Linked DNA regions of Homo sapiens. The protein of the gene in region 2 interacts with the protein of the main gene of each other region in a biochemical or structural test. Each region holds a gene or a part of one and is shown on either strand. Other genes may lie near its edges. The genes, in order: NEDD9, LYN, PLCG2 and FASLG.

What was found.
Region 1: the proteins of LYN (region 2) and NEDD9 form a complex in vitro, tested with the Homo sapiens proteins (one study listed by BioGRID).
Region 3: the proteins of LYN (region 2) and PLCG2 form a complex in vitro, tested with the Homo sapiens proteins (one study listed by BioGRID).
Region 4: the proteins of LYN (region 2) and FASLG form a complex in vitro, tested with the Homo sapiens proteins (2 studies listed by BioGRID, with this or other methods).

The regions. Positions count from the first base shown.
Region 1 is NC_000006.12:11,208,421-11,216,202, forward strand, and holds part of NEDD9 (enhancer of filamentation 1), read right to left. Parts: intron 5,308-7,782; coding exon 4,861-5,307; intron 1-4,860. UniProt on the Homo sapiens protein: Scaffolding protein which plays a central coordinating role for tyrosine-kinase-based signaling related to cell adhesion. As a focal adhesion protein, plays a role in embryonic fibroblast migration.
Region 2 is NC_000008.11:55,994,283-56,002,064, reverse strand, and holds part of LYN (tyrosine-protein kinase Lyn), read right to left. Parts: intron 3,720-7,782; coding exon 3,566-3,719; intron 2,648-3,565; coding exon 2,516-2,647; intron 1-2,515. UniProt on the Homo sapiens protein: Non-receptor tyrosine-protein kinase that transmits signals from cell surface receptors and plays an important role in the regulation of innate and adaptive immune responses, hematopoiesis, responses to growth factors and cytokines, integrin signaling, but also responses to DNA damage and genotoxic agents.
Region 3 is NC_000016.10:81,773,783-81,782,518, forward strand, and holds the start of PLCG2 (1-phosphatidylinositol 4,5-bisphosphate phosphodiesterase gamma-2), read left to right. Parts: upstream 1-5,508; 5' UTR 5,509-5,642; intron 5,643-8,736. UniProt on the Homo sapiens protein: The production of the second messenger molecules diacylglycerol (DAG) and inositol 1,4,5-trisphosphate (IP3) is mediated by activated phosphatidylinositol-specific phospholipase C enzymes. It is a crucial enzyme in transmembrane signaling.
Region 4 is NC_000001.11:172,661,698-172,667,753, reverse strand, and holds the end of FASLG (tumor necrosis factor ligand superfamily member 6), read right to left. Parts: intron 3,421-6,056; coding exon 3,364-3,420; intron 2,133-3,363; coding exon 1,738-2,132; 3' UTR 878-1,737; downstream 1-877. UniProt on the Homo sapiens protein: Cytokine that binds to TNFRSF6/FAS, a receptor that transduces the apoptotic signal into cells. Involved in cytotoxic T-cell-mediated apoptosis, natural killer cell-mediated apoptosis and in T-cell development.

The DNA.
Region 1 (7,782 bases), on a different chromosome or scaffold from region 2:
CTCATACCAGATGGTAATGAGCTGAACCATGGGATTCGAGCAGCAGCGTGTGAGGGTGGATGTGTGATAAGATCAGAACCACCTTTCAGTTAATTAAAGGTTAACTCTCATTTAACACTTTGATTCTTGCTTCCACCTGTTCATTGGTTCACTGGGCTGCTATCTGTGGGCTGATGCTCTACCAAGTGCTCAGCCTACAGCAGTCAGGAGGCAGCCATGGCCCCTGTGCTGATGGAGCTTGTAATTTAGCCCCAAACTGATCTTCAGAAAGAGGTACAACAAATAGTTCCAGCAGTTAGAATAAAAGCGACACATCCAAAGAAAAATCAGAGAAGCACATATAATTTCCCATGCAGATCAACTGTGAAATGGATGAACTCAGGTAGCAATTTCACTGATCTTTGAAGCAGAGAAATGAGACTATTTTAGATCTTTTTAGGCTTTTGGTTTTGAACATTTGTAGATTTCATTTACCCCAAACCATAATCCCATATTAAGTAGAATTTTTGCTGTTAAAAATTGAAAACTTTTTTTCTTCCTTTATAATTCAGTTTTTCAAATTATTCGACTATGAGTAACTTATTTAATTTAGGATTGCCTGTGGGTTCTTGGCAACCATGATGCATATTTAGAAATCTTTGCAAAGTGAGAAAAATATAACCTACATACTGTTTTCTAATATGATGAAATAGTTATAAGCCCTAAATAAAACAATTAATGGGGCAGACATGATATGGTTTCCTAGACATTGACCTAAATGTTTATTAATTTCTATTTTGCAGTTTTTGTGTTTCATATTTTGGAGTCAAAAGATCTTTTATTCAGCTCCCAAACATTCTTATAGGCACTGGGCATATTGCCTACAACGCCTAATGGATAAAACGGCCCTGTGCACAAAACACAGAGTGAAAAAGACCAATGAAATTAAGTAAAGGTGTCAGCGTATATGGTTTTCAGATAACTTGGAGAGTTTTTTTCCACCCTTTGCAGAATTCTTGCAGAACCAAAGAGAAAGCCACACACTCAAAAAACACAGCATATGTGTTAGCAAGAAAGCACTTGTACCTTCGGTGTGTCGTAAGAAACACAACAGGGCTGATGTAGTAGGAAATAAACTCTGAGAAAGGAAACGCAAGGTGAGAGGAATGCATTCTTTTAAGCCCCTGCCATGCTAAGCACTGAGCCAGGGACTTTCTATGTATGCTTCTGTTTAATTCTCACGACAGCCTATGAAGTAGTTAGTATCATTCCCATTAAACAGATGAAGAAACCAAGGCGTAGAGATGGTCAGTAACTTACCAAAGGATATACAGCTATGGAGAAACAACCCAGCATCAGCTGAACCCTGAAGGCCTTACTCTCTCCACAATTCTCACACTGTCTGCTTGTTTCCTAAAAGGGTGGGGATTTTATGACTATATTTCTTTCTCTAAATGCTGATTTAATATGTGATGAATGTCAGTTAGTGTGGAGGGGATGCAAGAGGGTGGGTAGAGGTTGGAGTTTCCAAGAGAGCAAAGTTGAAGTGATAGAAGGCAGAATTCACTGTCTTTTTTTTTTCCTTAAGTGATTCATTAGTAGAAAAAAGCAGTGCTGGGTAAAACTTCGGAAGCCCACAGTCTGTAGCAATATCAAGGGAATTTTGAACTATGGAAAGTCCCAAATCATAATCAGATTGGAGCATGTCCCAGCCCCTTCATGGTCCCTTTACAGTGTTTCTCAAAGTCTAGTCCTAGGCCACCACCCACAAAACTATGCAAGGAGCTCAATAAGATGCAGATTCCTGGGCCCCCAACCAGACCTACTGGATTAATTTCTCTGAGGGAAAGACCTGGGAATCTGCATTTAAACTCACTGCCCTACCTCTCTGGGTGATTCTATGCCCATTAACATTTTTAAACCCCACCCCGGTGGCTCAGAATAAGATTCCACTGCCTCCTTATTTTCTTATTCAAGAGCTTTTAAAGACCATAGCTTAAACTACCAGGCATATCTAGTTCTGGGCTCATATTATCTTACAGATGAAAAATTTAAAGAGAAAATGAGCAAATTGCTTTATTAAGCCAGTCAGTAAAACTACTAAAATGCAAACTCAGAAAAATGAAAAAGCCACGCCTGATCCCCAGTGTGCTGGGATTATCTCTTAGGGCCTAGGCTTAAGTCATTAGAATGATTCCCACCCACTGAGAATATCCTATACCCAGGAAGATGTTGACAGATGTTTTTTAAAGCAGTTGCAATTGCCTGGAAGGCTAAAATCACCTCCTAGCAGCTAAGCCATCTCCACTATGAAAGAAAGGAAGGAAGGGAGGAAGGGAGGGAGAGGGAAGGAGGGAGGGATGGGGGGAGAGAGAGAGAGAGAGAGAGAGAGATAGAAAAGAGAAGTGAGGAAGGGAGTGAAAAGAAAGGAAGAGGCAACCACACTCCCATGGATGTGAACCACTGCTCTGGGGTACATGGAGAGAGGCAGCCTAGAGACCCAGGATCAGGATACTGTGGAGAAGCCCTTGGTATTTGGCAGGGAAGGTGCCAGGGCCACCCTCTTGCCCTCCCCATCCTGGCCATGTCACTACCCCAGACCCTGACTGTGTGATGCTTTAGGCACGGCCTACTCTTCAGCCCTGGCTGCAACTCCTGGAAGGGCTGGCACAGGTCATTTTCAGAAGTTGATTTCCTCCTGCAGGACTCATCTACCTTTTGCTAAACAGAAAATGTTCTACTGAGTGTAGACTTAAAAAAAGCAAAACAAAACATGGAATGTGAGTGCCCGAGGGTCACCCCAGCACCCCAGCCCTTTGACATCAATCCAAGGGAAGATGAGTCCGTATCTCTGCCCTCTGGAAGGACGGGGAGCCATGGGGAAAGCCTGCAGGGCAGTCCCAGCAGATACAAGGGGAAGAAGTCTGAAGGCTTAGGCTTCTCTGACTTGGAGCTGAAAAGGTTGGGTCTAAAAAGGAAAACACGCTACCTTCCTGCCAAAGTCAACTGTGATGAAAGTTTAGAGCCCACCACCTCCCAGCCAAGCATTTCCTGCTCTGGCCTCCCCTTCTGCCTCACACTGGCTCAGATGTGGGAGAGCTATTTTTAAGGTGCAAACAACCAGGACTAAGAATGAGTGAAGTTACTTATTTATAGTTACACCTTTCAACTGTTATTTTTCCCCTCTGGAGATAGAAGCCAGGTTTTGTTTTCCCTTTGAATCTACAATTCCTAGGACAAGGAAGACTGAAAAGCCACAAGTCAGTTTATCACCTCTAGGCAGCATCGTTGTCGTGGGCAGTACAAGTCTAAAAGCTGTGCACCACCCTTGAGGAATCCCTCTTAACGAACCTACGCTCAGTTCATGCCACACGCGTGCTCTTGAGAAGTATTTTGTAAAACATACTTTTTATATCAAAGGTGATTTAAAAATGCATTAGTGCTTTGTTGTTTAAAGGAATCTACCCACACAGGGTCAGGGTCTGGGGTGGTGACATGGCCAGGATGGGGAGGGCAGGAGGGTGGCCCTGGCACCTCCCCAGCCAAACACTAAGGGCTCTCCACAGGGTCTCTAGGCTGCCTCTTTCCATGTACCCAAAAATGCATTAGTGCTTTCATTGTTTAAAGGAATCCTTTGTTTTTTCAACAGAGGATTCTAATACATCAAATAGATATTCCCTAATTTACAGAGGTTTGTAAAATCAGACTTCATATTAGATTTACTTGGGGCAGGACACATCTATAGTTAGTGTTCTAAGGGTCAACAAGCTCTTTCTGGTATGTAATTGCATCTTTCCTCTTGTAATTCAGGGATATCTTCTTATCCAGTTAAATTTGTTCATTCCTAATACCAAACCTTGTAGGACCCATTGGAATTTGCCAGCAAATGAAAGAGAAAATCCCTCCTTTGTGATGCTCACATAAGCATCACCTTGGTTGTGGGTGTTACCCCCGATCAGTCCACTGACATTATTTTCCTGATAACACGTGTCCCTACCTAGCATTCTCTTGGTTGCTTCTGTCTCCCCCACGGCAATGTAAGCATCACCAGGGCTTTGTTTATCTTTAATTAATCACTGTATCACAAGCATCAAAAATATATTAGATGCTCAACATTCATTGTTCAATTAGTGAATTTCTATTGACCTCAAATTGCTAAAGTATTTGGGATTACACAGGGTGTTGCAGAGCTCCCCACACTGTATTTTTAAATTAATTCCTTCCTAAATATCCAAGCTCCACTGTTTTCACCCACTGCCTCAGGCATTATTATAAGAATGACTTGAAGGACAGGAGGATGGCTTCATTCCAATTCCACTAGTATCTGTGCATTTTTAAATGAGTCAAACTAAGCTGATAACTCTATAGAACGAGTTGGTCAGCATGACATACTCCCAGCTTCCTCACTCTCGCTACTTTGGGTGGGTTCCTTGTCCAGCCAGGCCACTGAGGTCATGATTCAGCTTTTGGCCAAGGGAGGATCCTTGTTGCATCATCAGGCTTGTACGAGATTTGGTGTTTGTTCCACTCAATGAAGAAACAGAAAAGATAGGAAACGATCTGAGCACAGAGTGAAGGCTTAGAAGCTGATATATGAGAAAGATGGAGAGAAACAGTTTAATAACCCATGTAACCCAGGATGACACAGGAACTTAGGAGGGCTGGAAATCAACTGTACTCAGCACATGGTAGTTCAAAGAAGTTTTGCTGAATGATGGATGAATGGCAAAATCATGCAAACATGATGCCTGAGCTAAGGTATTGGTTATATCTACTTCTTGGCAGCTTCAAGTTATTAATTTGGGAACATTTCCAAATGCTCCAAGTGTAATGGGAAAAAAAAATAAGTAGGAACAAAAATTTAGTTAGTCATTTACTCACCTTTTTACCCACGTGGGGCCCACTGGTTCCCCCAATGCTTCTCTGCACTGATGGTGGCACCTGATATACCTCTTGTTCTTGGGTGCCGTGGCCAGTGGGGACTTGGTAAATTCCCTGATTTTGGTAGGAAGGTGGCACTTGGTAGATGGTGTCTCGGGGAGCAGCCTGTGGGTTTGGCACTTGATAGAGCTTCTGTTGGCCAAAGGTCTGCTGCATCAGTCCAGAGGCAGGCTGCTCGTGACTGGAGGCAGTCTCCTGCATGGGACCAATCAGAAGCTTCACCCGGTTGCCTGGGACAATGCCTTGCCGACCGTGTAATGAGCACAGCCACCATCCTTCCAGTCCCCCTGTGTTCTGCTCTATGACGGTCAGGATGTCTCCCTTGCGAAAGGCCAGTTCCTCGGCACACTCTGGGACATTGTCATATAAGGCCCTTGCCATAAGATTCTAGGAGGGAAGGAAGAGAAGGAAACCGTGTTAGAATATTGGGTCGGTCCCTTTATCACCTAAGGCCCGTGCTCTTATGGAAAGGCACACTTCCTGGAAAGAGAGAAGCATAAATCTGAACAATAGACTGTAAGGAGAAAAACAGATGGTGCAGACAAAAGACAGATACATATACACTGCATCTGCCACCAGTGACATCAGACTGCCTCCTTGGAAAAGCTCAAAACACCAGAAGAGTTCTTTCCTCTAGCAGGATATGCCGTGCCAAGGAATTATGAGTAGCAGTGTTACAGAGTTAGAGCATGGTTCACTATACAAAACATTTTTCTTCCTTTTTCAAAGTGAGCTTAAGGAAAAAAAAATCCCGAGATATTCAGATGTTCGACAATGAACATTTCTCAATATTGTTCTATATTGGAGGTGAAAAGAGTAAAAGAAAAATCCCAAATAACACACAGTACAAATAGCATTTATATTTGGAGTTGAAAAGCCAATAGAAGTACACATATATATGCCTTGGCAGGGCTTAGAAATTCTTGTTCTCAGATGACAGGAGCCTTGGATCCAGAGAGAATCCACAAGCAAGGCATGTAGACATGCCATCAAGCGTGGAGCATAGGCCAGCAGCCATATACATCTCCAGCTTTGACAACAAATTTATTAACACATAGGTGGATGCCAACTCTTCTCTCTCGGTCTTTTATGCATACCTTTCCTGAGGGCCCCTCCTCGCCCTCCCCTTTCGTCACCTACTTCTTGAATCTCACCATTCACATCAGAAAAGCTGTGCCTTCCCCTTTCATGGGCCCAACACACTCTCCGTCTTTGTATGAAGGCCTGTCTGGCACATTCAGTACTAAGCAGACAGCCAAAGTAGGCATTCAGCAGAGAGTGGGCAGGCAGTACGTGCTGACATTCTTGGAGGCCTTTCAAAGGCTCGGAAGATTTCATTTCTTGGCATTAGTAAAGTTTCCCAGCACGCGGGCAGCCATTCCCGCATGTCTGCCCCCTTCCCAGAGCACAGCGAAGTCGGGGACGTTGTTGATTCAGCACAAGCCCTCGGAACACTAAAAGTGAACTCTAATGCTTTGTTAAGATGTTTGGATGCACTTAATGTCATTGAGGTGGGGCTCATTTATGGAAGAAAGGATTACGGATTGGATGGGGCAGGTTCATGACTTTATTTTATACCATGACATATTCGTGGGATTTTCGGCTGTCATTGTCTGAGCTTTTGCTGTCTATTTTCTTCTCTAGCAACGTGGACTTGATCATTCAGCCTCGTGCTTTTCATTTCTTTGCAGCTGACTTGCACTACTCGCGTCCCCTTGTGCTAGCCCCATTGCCACGGGTCCTGTGTGTTTTCCGCTCTGGAGGGCTGTGCAATGGAAGGGATCTGCCCTCTATTCAGTAGTTGGGACGGGTCCAGTTCTGCTGCTGTGAGCCAGGTTCCTCTTAGCCAGGGCAATTAAAAGAGATAAAGCCATAGAGGACAGTCCTCAGGAAGCTTTGTGATACTCTTCAAGAATAAGGTTGAAGTCCTTTTTCTTGACAGTTATGAGATCCAGGAAGTGTGAGACACAGAGAGGTGAGCGGCCAGGGAAGCTAAAGGGAAACTGAGGAGTGCATATTTCAGGGGAAGGTTTCACTGGGTAGTTAATATTCCAGGAGGCGCTGGGTTTCATCTAACAATGAAAAGTTCACATACATAAAGAAAAAATCAGGCAGCAGTTTCCCCTGTTCATGGAACCATTTAAGGATGGTGTCATAATCCTAAAATTGTCTCTGTTTCTCTTCTCCCATCTTTTGGGTATTCTGTATTTTACAAGAGAAGTCATAGAGTTACAGAGGACAAGATTCTGGTCCTTTTACTAAAATGACCTCCAGGAAATGACTCCACCAGAGCTGTACTGAGATTATTAAGTGAGGAGATAGCTGACCACTCTGGCCTCTGTCTGTCCCTTTCTTCTGGGCCCATTCAGCAATCGGGAAGCCCCCACATGAAATCAGAAGCAACAGAGTCGGGCTAGTTGTATGGGAGCTGAGGGTTGGTAGCTGTGCAATTATACTGGCTACAAAGAAGGGAAAGAAGAGAAACAGAAAACAGTAGAAAGGCAAAGGGCTACAGATCTAATCAGCATAAATCAGCTCAAGGCATTCGGAATTGGGCCACTTCCAACTCCAAGAGCACCATGAGGCACTGAAGTGGAGCACCGGAGCATGCTTGATCAGAGGCAGATAGAAATCCCCGTGCGAGAGTCGTCCTGGGCGTTCTTTGTCTCCTGCCCCAGTAACCTTCTTACCACCTGGTGAGCAGCTGGCTAATGTTTCTACACTGGCCTGTGAGCTGCTTCTTGGGGGAAACTCTCAGAGCCCCACAGTCTGGGCTAATGTGGGCACCGCAGGTGAGTCCTCCTGACTGGTTGTCAGGACTTCCCAGCAGTCCTCCTCAGTGCCCATAGAGATTAGGTTTCA
Region 2 (7,782 bases):
AGGTGATCCACCTGCCTCAGCCTCCCAAAGTGCTAGGATTACACGTGTGAGCTGCCGTGCCCAGCCAGTTCTTTTTTCAAAAAATGATTTTTCACCCCAAATATTTCCAAATCCTGGGCATTGTGCACATTGGCTGAGGGGTCTTGGGAGGCACATGGATCTGGGGCTCAGAGCAGCTTTGCCACCAGCGAGGGGCCCAATCACCTTCTCCAAGCCTCAGGGGCCATGGTAGCACATCACATGCAGCACACCACGCATATCACAAAACATTCTTTTATGAGATTGTATGTTTATCAGGTGTCAGATTATATACATAATCTGACTATATAATCTTTCTCTACAGACAGATTATAGAAAGAGATGTAGGCATAGATGGAGATAGAGATATATAACATCAGACACTGGGGCTGATTAGAAATATTTTTCCTATTTTGCAGCAATGTTAATTCATTAATCTCAGTGTCTAGAGCAGCTGGAAGATGAAATGCTGGCACTAAAGGGATTTCCTGGGACAGCCGGTCCACTGTGCAGGCAGACACCACCCAAAGGCTTTCAGCTGCCAACTGGTCCCTGCCCCAGTTTCTCTGTGGCTCATCCCCACATGAAACAGTAGTGATGGGAGCACGCAGACTGTGTGGCTGCTCTGTCCAAAAGCCTTCCCTGGTTTGCATCTCAGCAGAGTAAGAGGGGCTGCTCTTACATGGCCAGTAAGTCTCTCCCTGAGCCACTCTAACCCCCAGCTACATAGCCTTCTTTCTCATCCATCGACTGTCTAGAGATCAAATGGCCTAGGTGCGTCATTCATTCATTCATTCATTCACCCATCCATCCATCAAATACTCACAGAGGCCCAAACCACGCTGGCCTCCTGCTCCTGTTGGCCAAGCCCATGCTCTGGCTGCTCTCCCCATGGGGACATGCAGACCTCAGAGAGCCCAAGACTCCCTCCCTCTGTGAGTCCCTGCTGCTGCCAGGACCATGGAATAAAACCAGCAGCTCCCCACCCCCTTCTGTGAGTACTCGCCAATCCCTAAGCCACTCCACGCAGGCTCCACACTACTCTCACCACCCTACAGGATGGCTGTGTGTTTGATAAACATCAGTCTCTCCCCACTACAATATTCACTCTCAAGGACATGGGCAGATACCATGGCATCCTAGCAGCTGAGAGTGCCTAGCATACTCAAATATTTTTTGAATAGGAGAAAGATTTAAACATTAAAAATTTAATTTTAAATTCCCCTCATGCAAATATTTTGTTAATAGTCAAACATAAATGAAAATATGAAGGCTCTGGGAGAAATCCCTCTTTTTTTTTTTTTTTTTTTTTTTTTTTTGAGACAGAGTCTCACTCTGTCGCCATGGCTAGAGTGCAGGGGTGCAGTCTCGGCTCACTGCAACCTGTGCTTCCCAGGTTGAAGTGATTCTCCTGCCTCAGCCTCCCAAGTAGGTGGGATTACAGATGCCCACCACTACGCCCAGCTAATTTTTTGTATTTTTAGTAATGACGGGGTTTCACCATGTTGGCCAGGCTGGTCTCGAACTCCTGACCTCGTGATTCACCCACCTCAGCCTCCCAAAGTGCTGGGATTACAGGTGTAAGCCACTGCACCTGGCCGAAATCCCTCTTCTTAACCATGCCAGCACAGACCATGGAAAAATGGAGGGATGGTCAGAATCTGGCTCTGCAGGCTTCAGGTGTTAGGAATCTGGAAATAAATACTGAATGATGCCCTCACTGATACCAGTATGTTAAAGAGCAGAAGGGCCTCCCACTGATAAACAAAGGTGGTTATTTCTTGAAGAGAGAGAGACTCCAGGGCACTTATTACAAAACCAAGCATCGGAAATCCTTGTCTCCATGTGGGTTTCCTCCTTCCAGTCAGGGGGACTGCCTTGGAGGAGCCCCTGTGTCTATCCATCCTCATCTCGACACCAACAACCATGCCCGGAACATTCTAGTATGTGGTGGAATTAATCAGTGCAGAACAAGAACACACACTCAAAATAAGGAGGCAAAGAAGTGTCTAAGCACTCTTAGAACAATTTATGCTAAAGATAGTGAAAATAAAAATCAAGTCTTTTTTTTGTTTCGAGATGGAGTCTCACTCTGTCGTGTAGGCTGGAGTGGAATGGCGCGATCTCAGCTCACTGCAACCTCCACCTCCCGGGTTCAAGCAATTCTCCTGTCTCAGCCTCCCGAGTAGCTGGGATTACAGGCATGCGTCACCATGCCTGGCTAATTTTGTAATTTTAGTAGAGACGGGGTTTCTCCATGTTGGTCAGTCTGGTCTCCAACTCCCGACCTCAGGTGATCCACCTGCCTCGGCCTCCCAAAGTGCTGGGATTACAGGCGTGAGCCACCATGCCCAGCCCGTGAAAATCAAGTTCTGGCTCAAAGCACTTATTCTTTGCTATCGGGTAGATGAAGTAATTATTACTTTTTAATGCCTTCATGCAACCTGACTTTTTCTCATTTATACAGCTTGATTGTAAATAGCTAAGTAAACCATACCTGGGTAGGGAATTTTCCCATAGGTGACAATTTCGTATAGGAGGATTCCAAAGGACCACACATCAGACTTAATAGTGAAACATCCAAAGTTGATTGCTTCTGGAGCCGTCCACTTAATAGGGAACTTAGCACCTAAGGAAGAAGATATGTGGTTCTTACTTGGGTATTTAAACTTAAACAAAAAAGTCATGAACATGTGACCCCATACTTTCTTTTCTTTTCTTTTTTTGAGGCGGAGTTTCACTCTTGTCACCCAGGCTGGAATGTAATGATGCGATCTCGGCTCACTGCAACCTTCACCTCCCAGGTTCAAAATAATAAAATAATAATAATCCTTGTTCAACAATGCTTAGGAATTTCAAGAAAGTGCTTGTCTCTTCCAGAAGACAGTGAGCACTGCAAAAATATTTGCTCAGCTCTCGTGGGTGAGAGCATAAGAATCCTCAGTCATAACCACGTGGGCAATCCTAGCCCAAGAAAGGCCCTGCAGTCCCGACCATGCTTGGCCCCCTGACAATGTGCCACAGGCTGGGGAACTTAGGCCTCTCTGTGCATTTTTGGTTCATATATATAATACAGAATGTGGGAAAATAAAGAAGTAGATTTTTTGCATTATATTTAGTTCTGTGTGTATGGTAATGTTCATGTTTTAATTTGTAATTAAAAGGCTGGAATAAACAATATAGAATTAATGTTACAAATATTTTCTCCACAGCCCCGTATATTATATTCATTGTTTGAGTGAAAACTTTAACAATACAAAATAAACAAGAATCATCTTGCTGAATCTATTTGTGTTTTGCATTGCTTAATTGAAATACAACTGATAGCATTTGTAAGCCTAACAAAAGTATCATGTGGAGTTAATCAAGAGAGTACCTTCTAGAAACTATTAGAATAGAACCATAAGCAGACAATTATGGTACAGCTTAAATGTTGTACCAAATAAGTTTTTCTTAATGGTGACTATTGTAATTGCTTTGTCAAAAACAGACAAAAACAAAATAAAACACAATAATAAAACATCTAAAGATCATTAGTGCAACATACCTTCCCTTGCTGTGTACTCATTATCTTCAATTACTCTAGCAAGGCCAAAATCTGCAATTTTGCACATGAGTGACTCGGAGACCAGAACATTAGCTGCTCGCAGGTCCCGGTGAATGTAGTTCTTCCGCTCGATGTATGCCATTCCCTCTGCAATCTGAAAACAGAAATAGGCTCCCATTTTCATATGTAGGGTAGGTGACTGGAAAGTGCCATCAAGGAAAACCGGAAAACTTATGAATTCCTGAAATCTTTTCATGTATACTATTTTGATCATTCAGCTTTTAAAGACAGTGGGTAATGGCAATCACCATTTGAGCCCTTTCTAAAATAACTGACCACCCTCTGCCAAATCTCCAACAATGGTCATCTTAAAAAAAAAAAAAGGAACATGTCTTAACATTTTCTTTTTTTTTCTTGAGACGGAGTCTCGCTCTTTCACCCAGGCCGGAGTGCAGTGGCGCTATCTTGGCTCACTGCAAGCTCCACCTCCTGGGTTCACACCATTCTCCTGCCTCAGCCTCCCGAGTAGCTGGGACTACAGGCACCCACCACCATGCCCGGCTAATTTTTTGTATTTTTAGTAGAGACGGGGTTTCACCATGTTAGCCAGGATGGTCTCGATCTCCTGACCTCGTGATCCGCCCGCCTTGGCCTCCCAAAGTGCTGGGATTACAGGCGTGAGCCACCGCGCCTGGCCATGTCTTAACATTTTCTAATGTGTGAAGAATCTTTTCAAGACCCTGCTAAATTCATCCATGTAGATACATAGATGTTATTATGCCAGTTTCTCAAATCAGAAAACAGATGCTATGGTCTGAATGTTTGTGTCCCATTCCCCGCCCCCTACCCCAAAGTTCAAATGTTGCAATCCTGAACCCCGAGGCAATAGTATTAGGAGGCAGGGCCTTGGCAGGTGATTAGATCAGGACGGTGGAGCCCTCACGAATGGGATTAGTGCCCTTGTAAAAGAGACCCCAGAGAGCTGCCTTGCCCCTTCCACCACGTGAGGACACAGCTATATGGTGCCATCTATGAACCAGGAAATGGCCCCTCATCAGACATGAAACCTGCCAGGGCTTTCCTTGCCCCTAAACTGTGGGAAATAAATGTCTCTCGTTTAAGCCACCCAGTCTATGGAATTTTATTATGGCAGCCTGAACCAACTATGAAAATAGAGTTGGAGAAAGTGACATGCTAATACAAATAAATTATTAAGGTATCAAGAACAGGATGTCGTTTCTGTCAGGTTAATCAACAGCCCATGGAACTGGCTCTCCAAGTTCTCTCTGCACATTCCCTCCAGGACAATCACAAAGATTCACTCTTTTTTTTTTTTTTTTGAGACAGTCTCACTGTCTCCCCCAGGCTGGAGTGCAGTAGCATGATCTCAGCTCACTGCAACCTCCCGCCTCCTAGGTTCAAGTGATTCTCCTTCCTCAGCCTCCCGAGTAGCTGGGATTACAGGCACGCACCACCATGCCTGGCGAATTTTTGTATTTTTAGTACAGACGGGGTTTCACCATGCTAGTTTTTGTATTTTTAGTAGAGATGGGGTTTCATCAGGCTGGTCTCAAATTCCTGGCCTCAGGTGATCCACTCACCTCAGCCTCCCAAAGTGCTGAAATTACAGGCATGAGCCACCACGCCCGGCAAGATTCACTCTCATGACAAAGTATGACAGCAGGAAAGAATCCAGGATTTAAACACAACAATAACATAGGGAGGCAAAACTACTACTCGTTGCTGAATAGAAAGTGTAGTATCGTTCCAAAGTCAGGTTTTTAAGGAAGACATTACCAAATTATAAAGTTAAGGAGAAGGAAGGAAGAAAGGAAAGGAAGGAGGGAAGGAAGGATGGAAGAAAGCAAGCAAGGAAAGAAGGAAGGAACAAGGAAATGAAGGAAGGAAGGAAACAAGGAGAGAGGAGGAAAGGAGGGAAGTAAGAAGCAAGAAAAAGGGCAAGAAGTAAAGAAAGCCAAGTAGTAGTTTATCTGGTAAGCAGTTAGAGAAAACTCTGATTCGAATTTTTCACACAGGAATGAATGTATTCTGCCAGATTCTACCTTGAATTGCAGGTGGCTCGGCTTGGAGGATCTGACTTTCCCCAGTCATCTGCAACAGTATCCCTGGTAATCAAGCACTTCAGGCCGCCAGTTCCAGACCACGTTGCTTAGCAAAAGATTAGCTCCTTGGTATTGGGTCTGCCTTTGCTTCCCCTCTAGGCCAATCCCTGGCCTCACCTTCTGCCCCGTGGGCCTTCCCTGAACTCCCCTTTACTCACCCTAGATGGTCAATGTGTACAAAAACCATCTGCAGCTGCTGATCACAGCTTTGTCATTATTTTTATGCTGTTTAATGCTCTCAGTGGTGTCATGTTAGCCAGTTGATAAACACCTCTAGGGCTGAAAATATCTTTTCTATTCTCACTTGTATACATTGGAGCCTTCAAACTTGTCACCAAACCTCTTATCAGAGACAAAGTAAGTCCTTTGGGAAATGGGCTGGGGTTTTCACATGACCAGAATACTATCTTGTTAGCCCACTACTACAGGGATTTGGCAGATGATATTCTCATGGTCACAAAAATCTCAAGTAAAATAATCAGTGTGGCCTACATCAGTCTCAAAGACTATTCAGTCCAGTATTTCACTTCCGAGTGGAAACAAAGAATGTGGTCCAAGCTCCTTTGCACTGCTGCCAAGGCCCCGTATGACCCGGCCCCGGCTCAGCCCTCCACCTCCTCACCACGACCCCCTCCTTTGTGCTTCTACACCCCCTGCCTCTGTGTGGAACGCTCATTCCCTCCCTGCCCCTTTCACCCGACCTATGCAGTTTGCCTGTCTCAGCTGAGATTTTACTTCTCCCGGAAGCCATGCCTGGCATACCCTCTCCTGCCAGGTGTGCATGCATCCCCAGTGCTCCCTGCTCCTCACCTGACTACCTGTCCACAATTTCTGCAGGAACATGAACCCATCCCAGCACTGAGCACAGCACAGCACTAAGCACAGCAGGAGGCTTCATTTCATGAGGGACTTGAGAAGTGGGACAGAGGCTGAGTGGAGCAGAAACCAGACGGACAGTAGGAAAAGGACAGGGCAGGTTTGGAGAGCAGTGACTTCGTGTCCCCTGCCTTTCTCCCAACTGTCACAAACCCTGAGCACTGGGGAGATGCACAGCTTTTACCTGACCCTGGAAAAGATTCAAACAGCCTTGATGGGAAGTCAACAGAAGGTGGGCAGTGGTGATAACCAGGTGAAGGCAGAGCTCCTGAGTCTGACTTTCTCTAGGAAGCCTCTGCTGCCCAGAAACAGCAGGCAGTGGCATGGTGAGGGCGTCAGGAAGTTCAGGATAGCTCCTTCTAGAGTGGGCACTACTGAAACAGATGACACGGGGTGGCAATTTTGGTGGCGGCTGGGAGAGAGGAGCCCTGCCTCTGTTTCCTTTTGTCTGCTGGTAACCCAAGTTCAACAAGACTTGTTAGAAAAAGCCAGTAAAACTGGGAAAAGTGGAGAGCGAAGATCAGGCTGAGCATGTGTGAAAGAAAGGAGTGTACGATTATAACACAGTAGGCTTTTGGCGATAGAACCACGATGCCTGGCTCAAACAGACCAGAGTTGGTTACAGGAGCCCAGATGAGACAGCAGCAATTGAGCGGTCATAGCTGACTCTGTCCCAGCCTCCCGGCTCCACTCCATGGTAGTGCAGCCTTTAAAAATTCTTAGCTCTTAGACACTTATCTACCTAACATTCCAATAATTATATATAAACTGGGCCAAGAACCCAAAGAAGCCAAAGCTGGCTGAAGTCCCAAATTGGGCCTGAAACCACAGTTGACAATAGCAACCAGGAACCTGTGCTGCCCCTCTCCCAACGCTGTTGATCGGCCACACAGGTGGGCATGATGGCAGGGACCCAGCCTCCCACACAGCAGCAAGGACACACGTGATGATCAACTCATTACAAAAAGCACTCCAGGGACTTGTTAGTAAGGCATTTGTCACACCTACCCACATCCCGCATTTGCATAAATCTGAGTGCATTTAAAAAAATGATTCTCAGAAATAATAACAGACTTGCAACAAACCTAGTGTATTTTGGCCTTCTTTTCCATGCCAGAGTGCTTTAAGGAGCTCAGATTCCAAACAGTAATTAAAGCGTTCACCAAGACAGGATTAGAAACAACAGCATTAGCCAAGTTGAATAAATAATGAATATGG
Region 3 (8,736 bases), on a different chromosome or scaffold from region 2:
GTGAAGCTTACAGCGGCTGCAAATGCTGTGCAGAGCTACAGAGAGTGAGCGACTGGGACTGGAACCAGCTCTGTCTCACTCCAAAGCCCCCTTTTTGTGTTCCTCCAACTACACTCTGTGCCCATCATGCAGGACTTTGATGGTTGCTGCTATATCCCTGGAGCCTGGGAGTGCCTGGCCCCTTGCAGGCACTCCGCAAATGTTTGTTGAATGAATAAATGAGCTCCACCAGGACTCCAGGTTAGAGGTGCTCAAAGCAAAACCATGGGTCGGGCACAGTGACTTATGCCTGTAATCCTAGCACTTTGGGAAGCTGAGGTGGGTGGACTGCCAGAGCTCAGGAGTTTGAGATCAGCCTGGGTAACACGGTGAAATCCCGTCTCTACTAAAAATACAAAAAAAAAAAAAAAAAAAAAAAAAAGCCAGGCGTGGTGATGCACGCCTGTAGTCCCAACTACTCAGGAGGCTAAGGCACAAGAATCACTTGAGCCCAGGAGGCAGAGGTTGCAGTGAGCTGAGATCCAACCACTGCACTCCAGCCTGGGCAGTAAAAAAAACAAAACAAAACAAAACCCACAAAACCATTAAACCGGGGGCTCCACCAAGCTGGCCACAATTTAAATAGCAGAGGGGTCTGCCCTCCCCTACCTCCAGAAGCAGTGAGGCCTAACCCCATTGAAAGCCCATTCTGGGTGGTACTTCCTCTCACAGAGGCCTGCCAGCCAGCAGCTGGGACTCGGCTCGTCGCCACGGATGTGTGCTTCTCTGAACAATGTTGGGAAAGGAAACTAGACTCAAGGGCTCCAGGGGGTTTTCTGGTCATTTTGGCTGTGGGGGTAGAGGGGTAGGGTTGGCGAGGTTCCCTGGGGCAGGGCGGTGGACCTCAGCCTGGTCACTGCCTTTGGAGGTGGTGGTGGAGGAGGGGAAAGGAGGTCTGGGTTTGAAATAACCCTCTAAGGGTGTTTTTTTTTTTTTGGTCAGGGTCTTACTCTGTTGCCCAGGCTGGAATGCAGTGGCACATGATCTCGGCTCACTGCCTGCAACCTCTGCCTCCTGGGCTTAAGTGATCCTCTTGCCTCAGCTTCCCGAGTAGCTGTGACTCAGGCTCACTCCACCAGGCCTGGCTAATTTTTAAAGTTTTTTGTAGAGATGGAGGTCTCATCATGTTGTCCAGGCTAGTCTTGAACTCCTGGGCTCAAGTGGTCCACCCTCCTTAGCCTCCCAAATAGCTGAGATTACAGGTATGAGCCAATGTGCCCAGTCCACAGATATTTTTCAAAACAGCTTTCTTGAGATATAATTCACATCCCATGCAACTCATGCATGTAAAGTGTACAGTACAGAGGCTTCAGCACATTCACAGAGCTGAGCAGCCATCGTCACAATCCATTTTAGAACATTCTTATCATCCCAAAGAGCAGCCCTGTACCCCTTATCTTTTACCTTCCGATAGGCCCGCTCTCTGCTTTCCTGGTCCTTGGCAACCACTGATCTACGTTCTGTCTCTGTAGATTTGCTAATTCTGCATATGCTATAGGTGGGTCTTATGATGGGGAAATTAAGTCCAAAGAGGGTGGCTGAGCAGCCCACAGCCATAAAACTAAGGAAGGGGCAGACTTGGAACTGGAGCCCAGATTCCTTGTTTCCAAGTTCATGCTTTCACAGGAGGTCTTCTTCTTCCCAGTAACAATTCCTAAAATAGTCAGCCTTGGTTTTGCCCCATGGGGATGAGGGCTTTACCTCCCTCATCTCACAGTCCCCCTCAGATGTAGGTACATTTCTGATACCCATAGGTATAATAATGAGGAAACTGATACCCAGAGAGGCTAATGGTCCAATGCACCATGGCTGCCAGCAAAGAGAAGAGGGTAATAGGGAAAAGCATTTGTATGCCCAAGGACTGGTGAGCAACACAGAATACAAAGAGTCAAGATGATTCAGCTTAAAATGTAATTTTCTTTCAGGTTATTCTTTCTTACCTATCCACTTCCCTTTTTCTTTCTTTTGTAGGAAAAGGAAAAGAAAGATCCCTCTACCCTTTGAGGTCACTTCCTGACCCATTTGTGCATCTATGTAGAGTGGTTACAAACTCACATCTCCCTGCCTGAATGCCTCTTATTAATCTGGGGATGGGTGGCAGGTCAGCATGCCCATGGGCTCTGACACCAGACAGGCTGAGGTTCAAATCCAGCCCCCACCACCCACTGACTTAACCCACTCTAGCCCTCTGACAGCTAACCTGTGACAGGGCCTTTCTACCTCATATGTCTGAACCCACAGAGTGGTTTCTTTCTCTCTCTCTCTCTCTTTCTTTCTTTTTTTCCTTCTTTCTTTTTTGTTTTTTTTGACGGAGTCTCACTCTGTTGCCCAGGCTAGAGTGCAGTGGTACAATCTCGGCTCACTGCAAGCTCCACCTCCTGGGTTCAGGCCATTCTCCTGCCTCAGCCTCCTGAGTAGGTGGGATTATAGGCACCCACCACCAGGCCAGGCTAATGTTTTTGTATTTTCAGTAGAGACGGGTTTTCACCATGTTAAGCAGGATGGTCTTGATCTTCCAACCTCGTGATCCGCCCGCCTCAGCCTCCCAGGGTGCTGGGATTACAGGCGTGAGCCACCGCGCCCGGCTCAGAGTGGTTTCTTTCCCTACCTATTTTATTCCATGGAAAAGAAAGAATACACAGAATGGTTCCTTCCCCACCTATTATCCTTGGGAAAAGAAGTGTCATTTTACATTAGAGTCCTCCCAGAACAGCGCCTGCCGCCTTGATGATGACGACGATTGTTAATTCTGAGATGGAGTCTTGATCTATCACCTATGCTGGAGTGCAGTGGCACCATCTTGGCTCACTGCAACCTCTGCCTTCTGGGTTCAAACGATTCTGCTACCTCAGACTCGTGAGTAGCTGACACTACAGGTGTGTGCCACCATGCCTGGGTAATTTTTGTATTTTTAGTAGAGAGGGTGTTTTACCATGTTGGCCAGGATAGTCGTGAACTCCTGATCTCAGGTAAGCCGCCTGCCTTGGCCTCCCAAAGTGCTGGGATTACAGGTATGAGCCACTGCACCTGGCAGATTATTTTTATTTTGAACAACCAAGTTAGAGTTTGAGAAAGAGATGAAGGGCCTCCAGTACTCTCTTTCAATCCACTGATTCCTTCAGTCGTTCACCTGGGGGGTGGGGTTGGGCTAGGGGTTGGTTAGCAAAAAATGAGCCAAAGAAGAAAATGAATTAAAAACATGAAAGAAAAAAAAGCAAACTGCCATTTACGATGACCATTATCTCACACACAGTGGACATTTTAACTCAAAAATACTATAGGCTCACAGGCATAGATTAAACAGAGAAACCTGTTCTTCATGTTCTTATTTTTTTGCTTGCTTCCCACAGATGAGAGAAAAATCCAGCCAGAATTGGCATCTGTCAAGATAGGCTTTTAGGAGCCACGGCTCCCTAGAGTGGTCTCCACACATTCTGATTATATGCAATCTCATTTTGCCATCAAGAGACTTAACCCACTCCCCTATCCATGTAGACTTTGTAATAATAAATTATACATATATATGACTGAACTAATATATTATGTACTTTATATAACACATACTAAAACAAAAGTGTGAAAAAGATTGGTTGAAATAAATACAAGCTGAAGTTCTAAAAAAAAAAAAAAAAAAAAAGTGAGGCAAAGGAATTGCCCCTAGATGTAGTCATTTTTCCTGGGGAATTGGCCCAATGACTTCAAGTGGTTGATGTCATAATGAGTCCTTCCAAGATCTCTTTAAAAAATTGATGTGTTAAGTGATCTGTGGTGATGAGCACAGCTATACACGCCAGTTGGGAGTGCTGAAAGAAATGAATCCACAGATCTTGTGAAGTCACAAACGAGTCCTATGGCTTGGGATACAACATTGACAGTGAGAGTGATATTCCTCAATTAAAAAACGCTATAACAGGCCGGGTGCAGTGGCTCATGCCTGTAATCCCAGCACTTTGGGAGGCCAAGGTGGGTGGATCACTTGAGGTCAGGAGTTTGAGACCAATCTGGCCAACATAGTGAAACCGCGTCTCTAGTAAAAATACAAAAAATTAGCCAAGCATGATGGCATACACCTATAATCCCAGCTACTCAGGAGGCTGAGGCAGGAGAATCGCTTAAACCTGGGAGGTGGAGGTTGCAGTGAGCCGAGATCGTGCCACTGCACTCCAGCCTGGGCAAGAGAGCAAGACTTTGTCTCAAAAAAAAAAAAAAACAAAAAAAAAACAAAAAAAAAAACAAAAAAAACCAAAAACACACACACACAAAAAAAACGCTATAACAGACCAGTGGCACATGCCTGTGATCCCAGTGCTTTGGGAGGTAGAGGCAGGAGGATTGCTTGAGGTCAGGAGTTCAAGAACAGCCTGGGACACATAGTGAGACCTCATGTCGAAAAAAGAGAAAATTAGCCAAGTGTGGTGTGCCTCTATAGTCCCAGCTCTTCAGGAGGCAGAAGCAGGAGGATCGCTTGAGTCCCGGAGTTCGAGGATGTGGTGAGCTATGATGGCACCACTGCACTCCAGCCTGGGTGACAGAGTGAGACCCTGCCTCTTAGAAAACAGAAGCTATAACTCAAGCAACTTGGAAGTGAAATTCAAGTGCCTGACAGCTGTCTAGGTGCCCCTGAAACTGCCTCTAGTCACAACAAAGATACCTCCATCAAAGAGCATAGGAAGGGTTTGAATCAGATAGCTTCATGCAACACACGAACGGAAAAATAAATTTCTTAAAGAACATATTAGCTTCTTCCCATGAGATCAGGAAAACGGGACATCAATTGTCTGGGGTTCTTTGCTCCTGACTCCCTTTGGGGCTGGCACTATGTTGATCACGTTTTACAGATGGGGAAACTGAGGCTGTCGGTTTTTAAGTGGTCTGCCTAAGGTAGCAGTAAGGGTTGGTCTGACTCCAGCGCAGCCTCAACGAGGGCTTCAAATTAGGGCCATGAATTGGCAATTCCTGGCGGGTAATTGTGAAGAGTATATTTATTTTTAATTTTTATTTATTTATTTTTGAGACGGAGTGTCTCTCGGCCACACCCATCCTAGCTCATTGCTGTCTCGAACTCTCGAGCTCAGACGATCCTCCCGTCTAGGCTTCCCAAAGAGCTGGGATGACAGGCGTGAGCCCGGGCGCCCGGCCGGGAGTGTGTTAAGTATACGGCAAACACCTGGACTGCGGCCGGCTCTCCAGGAATGCCATGATATTGGGGAATTCCCTTTGCACCTGGCCAAGTGGCCTCGGGCAGGTAGCCTCCCCTCGGGTTGCCTCAGTTTCTTCTTTGGCACGCAGAGGCGGGGCTCCAGGCCTGGGCCGCTCCATGGCGGGGAGGGCGCGGGGACGCTGCACTCGGGGTGCGCTCCGAGAGGCGGACCCGGCTGGGCGCGCCTGGGGCGGGGCGAGGCGGGGCGAGGCTGGGCGGTGCGGGGGGCGGCCCCCGAGGATCACGTGGCGCGGCGCCGCGGCCGAAGCAGAAGTAGCGAGCGCCGGCGGCGGAGGGCGTGAGCGGCGCTGAGTGACCCGAGTCGGGACGCGGGCTGCGCGCGCGGGACCCCGGAGCCCAAACCCGGGGCAGGCGGGCAGCTGTGCCCGGGCGGCACGGCCAGGTGAGCTGCCCGGCCGGGAGCGAGGCAGGCAGGGCGCCCAGGGACCTGCGCCCCGCGGGGACCGGCTCCCAGGGCGCTGCGTCCGAGGGGGTCTGCGTCCTGGCTCAGCCGGAGCGGGCAGGGACGGGGCGCACCCTCGGGGACCCCGGCCCGCCGTGCCCGGGGTCCGTTTGGTGACGGCAGGGATCCTGGCCCAGCCGCTGGCCACTTCCTCACCCCGGGCCGGCGCCACCTCTCCGGTCCGTGCGGTGGGGCGGCCCCAGCTTTGAATGGGGACCGGGAGGAAGGTCAGGGGTCGTGTGGGGGCTGGCGTTCAAAACTCCTCTTTTCGAGCGGCTCTGCGTGGGGTGGCGCCGTCTCTCTTGACGGCCCTTGTGCCCAGAGCTCGCGGACGCTCGGAGCCACACTTCCCTGTCTCACTTCGGTGGTTGCGGGTGGCGGGTGGGAGCGATACCGCGGGAGGCGCAGTCCTTCCCGGAGACTTTTGGAGAGCTTGCAGGACACTCGCGATGCCCGCTCCGCAGCTGTCTGCGTAATTATGCGTGTGTCTGTGCGTGTTGTGTTTTGTTGTGTTTTGGAATCCCAAAGAGGGCATTACCCGCACAGCGCAAGAGTTCAGGTTAAAGACGTGCCCCGTTTGGACGGGGAGCTCCTGGATTCCAGCAGGACGGTGGGGCGGGGCTCTCTTGGTACCCTAATCTTGAACTAGGGTGAGAAACTATGGGGGGCGGGGTGGTAAAGGGGTGACATGGCGCGAGGGAAACAGGTGGCCTTGCCCGTCGGAACTTAATTTGAATTTCAGTTCCATCAGTGGGACCCTGGGCAAGTTGAAGAACCTTTTTGAGTCTGTTTCCCCCTCTGGATACTGGAGCCACCCAATTTTCCAGGGCTGTGTCGAGAATTGGGGCTTATTGCTGTTCCACGAGGTTCGCTGAGAATCGGGGCGCATCCATGGAGAGTCCTTGGGCAGTTCCTGACTCTCTGGTTCAAGGGCATTCTCTGGGGCATGGGCCCTCGTCCTTGACTACAGTTCTGCGGGGAAGTTTTACAGAATTTTGAAGTCTATGCCAGCCTCAAGCAGTTTCTCTTGCAAAGGTGTGTGTGCAGTCACGTGTATACCAGCTCAGGGACAATCGTCATTGTGAGCCTCACTGATGTTTAAGTCACCTAATGATGCAGCTGCCTTCCCCCACCAGCGACTGGAGTATGGGCAGTTCCTCTGGAAGTGGAAAAGCACAGACCCCATGAATAGCCCTTTTGCACTCATTGGGTAGAGTCAATGAAAAGCTGCTGGTGAGAAAACTTTTGAAAACATTTCTTGGTCAGGCACGGTGGCTCACACCTGTAATCCCAGCACTTTGGGAGGCCGAGCTGGGCTGATCACTTGAGGTCAAGCGTTCCAGACCAGCCTCACCAACATGGTGAAACCCCATCTCTACTAAAACTACAAAAATTACCTGGGCGTGGTGGTGGCCGCCTGTAATCCCAGCTACCCAGGAGGCTGAGGCAGGAGAATCACTTGAACCCAGGAGGTGGAGGTTGCAGTGAACCCAGATCATGCCACTGCACTCCAGCCTGGGTGACAAGAGAGACTCCATCTCAAGACAAACAAACAAACAAACAAACACACACAAACACTTCTTAATTTAGAAAACAGCAAGAACACAAAGAGAAAAATTTGCCCGTTACATCATCAGTTAATATAAATAAAGTCAAGTTGTATCCTCTACCCTCTCCCAGCCTCCGATAAATAGTAACCACTCTCCTGGATTTACCAGAAGATCACCTTTATAAAAAGGGAATTGTATTATACTCATACAGTTGCAACTATTGTCTGAAGCTATTTTTTTATTGACCTCACAAATCTTTCCAGATCAAATTGCTTATCTATCATCCTCATTCTTTCTGATGGCTACTGAGCGTTCTTCAGTGCATGTGCACCATTATTTATCCAGGAGGCCCCCCACATTGATGAGCAGTTGTTTTCTGTTTTTTTTTCTTTTTTTGTATTTCTATTGCAACTATTGCTTCCGTGATTTTCTGTCGTACATATTGCATCTTTGTGCATGTCTTTCTTTACATGTACAATTGCAGGATCGAAGCATATGCGTGTTTTGCTTTTTAGTAGCTGCTCACAGGTTGCCCTAAAGGAGCAGGGGTGGAATTTACACTCTCACTTGCAGTGGCTGACACCATTCCTTTGAAAATAGTGTATTCCCTCTAATGCTGCAGGGTGGGTGTAAGGTGCAGCAGTAATGTCCCTTGAACTGTTGGAGGGGCCCTTACCACTCAAGTATTTGCCTGTGCTCCATTTTAACACAATTGTCTTGTGGGATTTTTGGATGAAATCCTGTACTGGCTTACCATGCACAGAGCACTGAAGAGACAAAAACTTCCTTGATTTCTGGTTTTGGGTCCTCGCATCTCATTTCATGTCCTTTCCCCCCCCCCCCCCGCCCGCCCCCGAGACGGAGTCTTGCTCTGTCGCCCAGGCTGGAGTGCAGTGGCGCGATCTCGGCTCACTGCAAGCTCCGCCTCCCGGGTTCACGCCTTTCTCCTGCCTCAGCCTCACGAGTAGCTGGGATTACAGGCATGTGCCACCACACCCGGCTAATTGTTTTGTATTTTTTTTTAGTAGAGACGGGGTTTCATCGTGTTAGCCAGGATGGTCTTGATCTCCTGACCTCATGATCCGCCCACCTCGGCCTCCCAAAGTGCTGGAATTACAGTCATAAGCCACCGTGCCTGGCCCATTTTATGCCTTTCTAAATAAGCTTATGAGATACAAGAACATGAATGAGCTTATGAGATACAAGAAAAACCTTTAGAAGGACATGAAATGTAAAAATGGCAAAAATCAGTTATTCAAACTCAGCCATATTTGTATTTACAAAATAAGTCATTTTATAGAATTACCCATTAAGAATGGGAAACAGGAACAAAAAAGGGATTTCAAGGCTTTTTTTTTTCTTTTTTTGAAAAAACCAAAAAAAGCAGAAGCAAAATGGAAGTTGCTGTGGTGGCTGGTGCTCTCTCCTGGGCTCAAGGTCTTGGAGACCTCCCTGCCATAGTTGATAAAGCGTGGAACGCTGGA
Region 4 (6,056 bases), on a different chromosome or scaffold from region 2:
TTTTGGAGTTGAGAGTCTTTCCAAGGTGCTGGTTGTCATGACAGATGATGACATTTATGCTGGACATAGAGAGAAGTGAAGACGTGGAAGGAGCTGATGTGTATATAAGAAAATAATAAAGTTTATTAATTAGAAGTCTCAATATTTTCAAAAATATTTTAGAAAAGAAAATGTTGGACCAATTCCGCTGGAATAATAGAAGATGATGTTGTGAAAATAAGACACCTAAAATCAAATTCCAAAGGAGTTACTATAATTTTTAATGATAACAAAGTCTAGGGAGAGCCCATGATAGTGAGTGGTTGAAGAAAATAGGAAAAGGCCGTTGTGAATGACAAGCATGAGAATACAAGAAACCAGGTGCTTAGATGGATCCCACAGATCAGTGGCCTCTGGAGAATGAAGTGGCTCTAATAGAGTGGCTTAGTAGTGGCAGACACTATTTTTTGATGTTCTATGTGTCTGATACTTTCAGCTCTTTTTTTGTTCAAGGAAGGTCAAGTGACCTAACCAGTGCTTACATAGGCAGTACGTGGAAGAACAAAGATTCAAATCTAAGTTTTTTAGTCCAAAATATGTGCCCTTTCCACTGTGCCATGGTTCTGCCTTCAGGAAAATATAATTTCTCATCAAATCTATGGAAAGTTGGCTAAGCTTAACATTGGTCATAATATTGGTAATGGAAACTCTGGGAGGTGAAGAGGAAAGAGAATATATAGAGAGAAGGAAGGCCTAGCAAAGGCAGAAAGATTTGATTCATAGTTCTTCTCACTCCAGTAAATTATTCTTAAAAGTGGTCTGATATCATAATGAATGAAGAAATCAAGGAGGAAAGAAATAATAAGCAAAAAATTCAAATATTAGTAAATTCTAAAAATTATTTGTATCCTAACATATACTTTTTATTACATGTTTTCATTTCACAAAAATGCACATCTACATAAATATTTATTATATTATAGGAAAACATCATTAGTAGCTGACAATCAATGATTTTTAAGCACTATTAGAGTTGATTGTCAGGAAGCATTCAAAATCTTGACCAAATGCAACCCATATTTTCCTAATATGTACTTCACAATATCTACATTCTCTCTTTAGTCATACACACACACACACACACACACACACACACACCCCTACAATTGCACTGGAAATACACATGCTGTGTTAGGAATGAAATGAGTCCCCAAAACATCTCTCTTGCTTATCTGTTAGTTTCACCGATGGCTCAGGATATGCATTTAGAAGTGAAGATGCTGCCAGTGGGGCATTGGCCTCTTTCAGCCTCTTTAGCTTATTATGCAAGCCTCTAGTCTTCCTTTTCCATCCCTTAAATCCTCAGGTCACAACCATGTATCTGAAAGACAGTCCCCCTTGAGGTAGCAAGGCCCACCTTGAGAGGTGAGTTAAAAGGTGTCCTTTTCAATCTGCCTAAATACTCTCAGGCACTAAGATGAGTGTAGAACACCTGGTAGCTGCTTTTTCATGCTTCTCCCTCTTCACATGGCAGCCCAGAGTTCTATGTTCTTCCGTCATATTCCTCCATTTGTCTGGCTCATAAACATTAGGTGAGTTGAGGAGCTACAGACATTTTGAACCCTGTGGTCTCAAGGTCCACTTGGTTCATGTCTTCTTACTTGACCTCAAATGCATGTAAGAAGACCCTCACTGAATACAACATTCTCGGTGCCTGTAACAAAGAATCATAATGGAAAGAATCCCAAAGTGCTTCTCTTAGAGCTTATATAAGCCGAAAAACGTCTGAGATTCCTCAAAATTGACCAGAGAGAGCTCAGATACGTTGACATATAAATGATCAGCACTGGTAAGATTGAACACTGCCCCCAGGTAGCTGCTGCGGGCCCACATCTGCCCAGTAGTGCAGTAGCTCATCATCTTCCCCTCCATCATCACCAGATCCTGGGGATACTTAGAGTTCCTCATGTAGACCTTGTGGCTCAGGGGCAGGTTGTTGCAAGATTGACCCCGGAAGTATACTTTGGAATATACAAAGTACAGCCCAGTTTCATTGATCACAAGGCCACCCTTCTTATACTTCACTCCAGAAAGCAGGACAATTCCATAGGTGTCTTCCCATTCCAGAGGCATGGACCTTGAGTTGGACTTGCCTGAAATAAATCCAAAAGGAGCTTTCAACAAGGAATAGTCATGCATCCAACAAACTAAGTTTCTAAGGCAAAACTGTGGGCCCTTCCTTCAACAAATGTTTCACCCAGAATGACAGCTGGTATAGAACTGGCTGAGGGGTCAGAACTTGATCCATCACAGAATTTCCTCAACAACGTTGTCCTATTTTGTCATCCACACAATTGGAACAATAGTATATACCCGTAATCCATTGCAGTAAGAAATTATTGAGAAAATATTTGCTCTCTGGAACAAAGATTTTACTATCTTCAGAACTAGCACCAAATCTGCTAGGCTTTGAAGTCCTTTCCTGAAGGAAAAAGCCAAATCCAAGGAACTCTAAAGTTCTAAAGTTGGGAAGGATCTTAGGGACCATCTGGTCCATCTTCTCACCTGCAGTAAGAATTATTCAGCCCCTCAATTTGGGGTACAGTTCCCTTTTCTTTGTATCCCCACAACATCATGAACATAACCTAAATCTCTGAAGTACTGAAATTATCATAAGTGCCTGTCTTTCCCTATTAGATGTCAAGCTCCCTGGGGGCAAGAGCCATGTGCTACTCATCTTCACATCCCCAAATTGGCACACAGCAGGTATTCAGTAAGTGTCTGCTGATGTGACCGGATCATTCTATAATTTCTGCCTAAATAATTCCAGGGACAATAGCCTACCACTTTCTGTGATATTTATTCCATTATTTATGTAGTTTATAATGGGAGTGCCCATACCATATCATTTCACTCCACTTTACAGGCACATATTGAAACTCTACAAGTGCCAGGATTGAGTCTCCCTTCTCACTCCTATTTATACTCTTGGACAAAGCAGAGTGAAGCTCTTCCAGAAAACCAAGAAAGCACTGACTAAAATAAGTCCTCATTCCTCACCTTCTCATCTCTCACCTCTTGGATCTGTGCCCCCAATCCCCCAAGGGACTTTGGAATGACTGAAAAGAATGAGCTTCTTATGGGCAGGGGTCATGTCATAATCAGCTCCAGGTCTCCAATTTAGAAGAGGGCCTTGCCCAGAGAATAGGGGATCAAAGTGTGTTCATAAGACTGACTCGACAAGAAAAGTGTTAGTATTATTGGGTTCAAATACTGTCTCCAGGAAGTAACAACTCTCTAGAGCCTGGTAATGGAAACCAGGCAGCCATTTTGCCTTTTGCCAAAAGCTTTCCCAAATCTCACCTGTACCTTCCAGATACAGACCTGTTAAATGGGCCACTTTCCTCAGCTCCTTTTTTTCAGGGGGTGGACTGGGGTGGCCTGTATCATAGAGAGAGGAAAAATATATGTTAAAATGAAATAGCAACTATTATTTTGGTGGGAATTTAAATCCAATCATTTTAAAAAAAAGATTTTAAAACCGTAAATGGCAACAGTCTAACATATACTAATCATGTAGGTCTGAACTGCAGGATTCATAGTAGTCTATATTTCAGAAACAAAGAGGTAAAAAAATAAACCAAATTAAGATTGACATATGTATAAATTATAATGTTACAATAAAACATAATTAATATAAACATTTATTCATAAAGAGCTGTCATGTCAGTTATTGCATTTAGAACTCACCACAACCCTTTGAGGTAGGTATTATTGTCCCACCTTATCGATTGCAAAATGAGCTTAGAAGTTGGGTGACTAATCCAAGAAGACCCAGCTAGTCAGCATCACAGATGGGACCACACCCTGCTCTCCTGACGCCAATTCCAGGGCTCTGTCCACTCTGATTCTCTTGTTCCAAAGACTTACAGGACAGAGGCTGAAGAAGACTACTGATCTGTCTGCGTGTCACCAGATCTTCCCCCAGTGACATTTTACAATCTGCCCCAAATTAATTATCTTAAGACCTCTGACAATCACCTCATATCACTGAGTCCTCAAACACCTTTAATTGCTCCTCCCCGAAGATGCCGTCGTATACAAGTATCCCCATCACACAATCCCAGCCCATCTGTCCAGCCTTATCTCCTTACTCCCACTGAGCATTGCCACACAACGGGAGTTCTGTGGCCTACACATACCCCCACTTTCCTTCCTCTGTGCCTTTGTTCATGCCATGTCTTCTGCCCGTAATGTTCTTTCAAGCAGATTTCTGTGTCAAATTCCTAAACATCCCATAAGGACTACCTATTACCGCTTTCTTTGGGAAACCCTCTCAAGCCTTTTTTGATCAAATATGATCTGCCCCTCTTTTGAAATCTAGGATCCCTCTGTCTTCCCCTCTCTTGTCATTTCTGACTCCTCTTGTCTCTGGGGTAACTACATAAATTATCTTATTCCCCTCAAATAACGACAAGTTCCTTACGATACGTTGAGTTCACCAGAGAAGCCCAGTTTCTAACACAGGGCATGTTACTAGCAAATGTTGGACAAATTAAATGGAAGGATAGACAATAGTTCTCAAAACAGACACTATTTCTCTGACTTCAACTGTTTCAGACAAGATAGACAGCTGCCACTTAGCTAATGAATTCAGCTAACTGAGACTTCAATAAATATTCACAGGAGATGCTTGTCTATGTCAGGTTCGTGATTAGCCTGTAAAACTCACATATGGTATGAGAATGGCCCAATCCACAGAGAACATTAGCTGAGCAATCATGACCTCTCTAGTCATCCAAGACAACCCACCATGTAGGAGGTGTTAGCGAACAGGAAAGGCAAAACTGAGTCTCCTCTGCATTCCTACACCGCAAACCACCCGAGCAACTAATCTGGCACTCAGCCACGCACCGGCAGGAAACGGAACAGAGAACCACATGTTGCATGTCTTTATATCCCTCACAGAGCCTAGTACAACGTTATTCTTACAGAACATGCTCACTAAGAATATCTGCTGTACCTATACTGGAATAAATAAATTGCAAGGATATCCTAGACACTGGTTATGAGTGCTTCCTGCCCCAGGGTTTTTGCATGTGCCGTTCCCAGCGCTGAAATGCCCGCCCCCAGCCCCACCCCACTCCACAGCACATGCACACAGCCGTTCACTCATCGGGCTTCTGACCCCCAAGGTGTTAGCGTAAACAACACCTCCTTAAAGAAGATTCTCAGGTTGTACTTAGTACAACTTTGGAATTGCATGGTCTGTTTGCTTGCTTTTGTTTAGCTTCTTCCCCCTGCTAAAAGCTCCATAAGGACAGGCCCCCTGGGCTGGCTCATCCTCAATCAGCATCCAACACCCAACATCTAGCCTCACACATGTGAATGAATAAAAGATTTAATTAGTTAACCGGAAAAAAATGGAAAATGTAAAAAGGAGCAAATTAGAAAGTATAAATAATCTATAATAGTATCTCCCAGAGAAAATCACTGTTAGTATGTCAGTGTGTAAAACTTTCCAGTTCCTAAGAATATAAAAATGTGCATACATGGTTACATAGTCAGTATGAAACTAAACATACCCTTTTGTAACTTGTCTTTTTATCTAACAATACAGAGTGCACAATCCCCAAAGCATTAAATGTCCTTCTGATACATCACTTTTAGTTGCTGCTTATTATGTGCTTGTCTGAATACACCATAATGTATATAACTAATCTCGTATGAGGCATTCAAGTTTCTTCTGAATTATTTATTATAAATAGGCTCATAAGGAAGTAATGAACATCCTTATATATAAATCTTCGGGCACATCTCTGATTATTTTCTTAAGATAAATTCTTAGCGATAGGATTACAACGTAAACTACTAGTTACAAGCTTTTGCTATGTATTTCTAAAGCGCTCTTCAAAAAAAGTTATAGCAATTTACATGTATACTGGCTGAAACTAATGTTTGCACAGGCACTTTTCTCTCAAATCTTTGTCAGTCTGGGTTTTTTTTTAATCTTTATTAATTTGATGAAAATTGGTATTCCCTATTTTTAATTTGCATCTCTTTTCTTATTAGTAAAG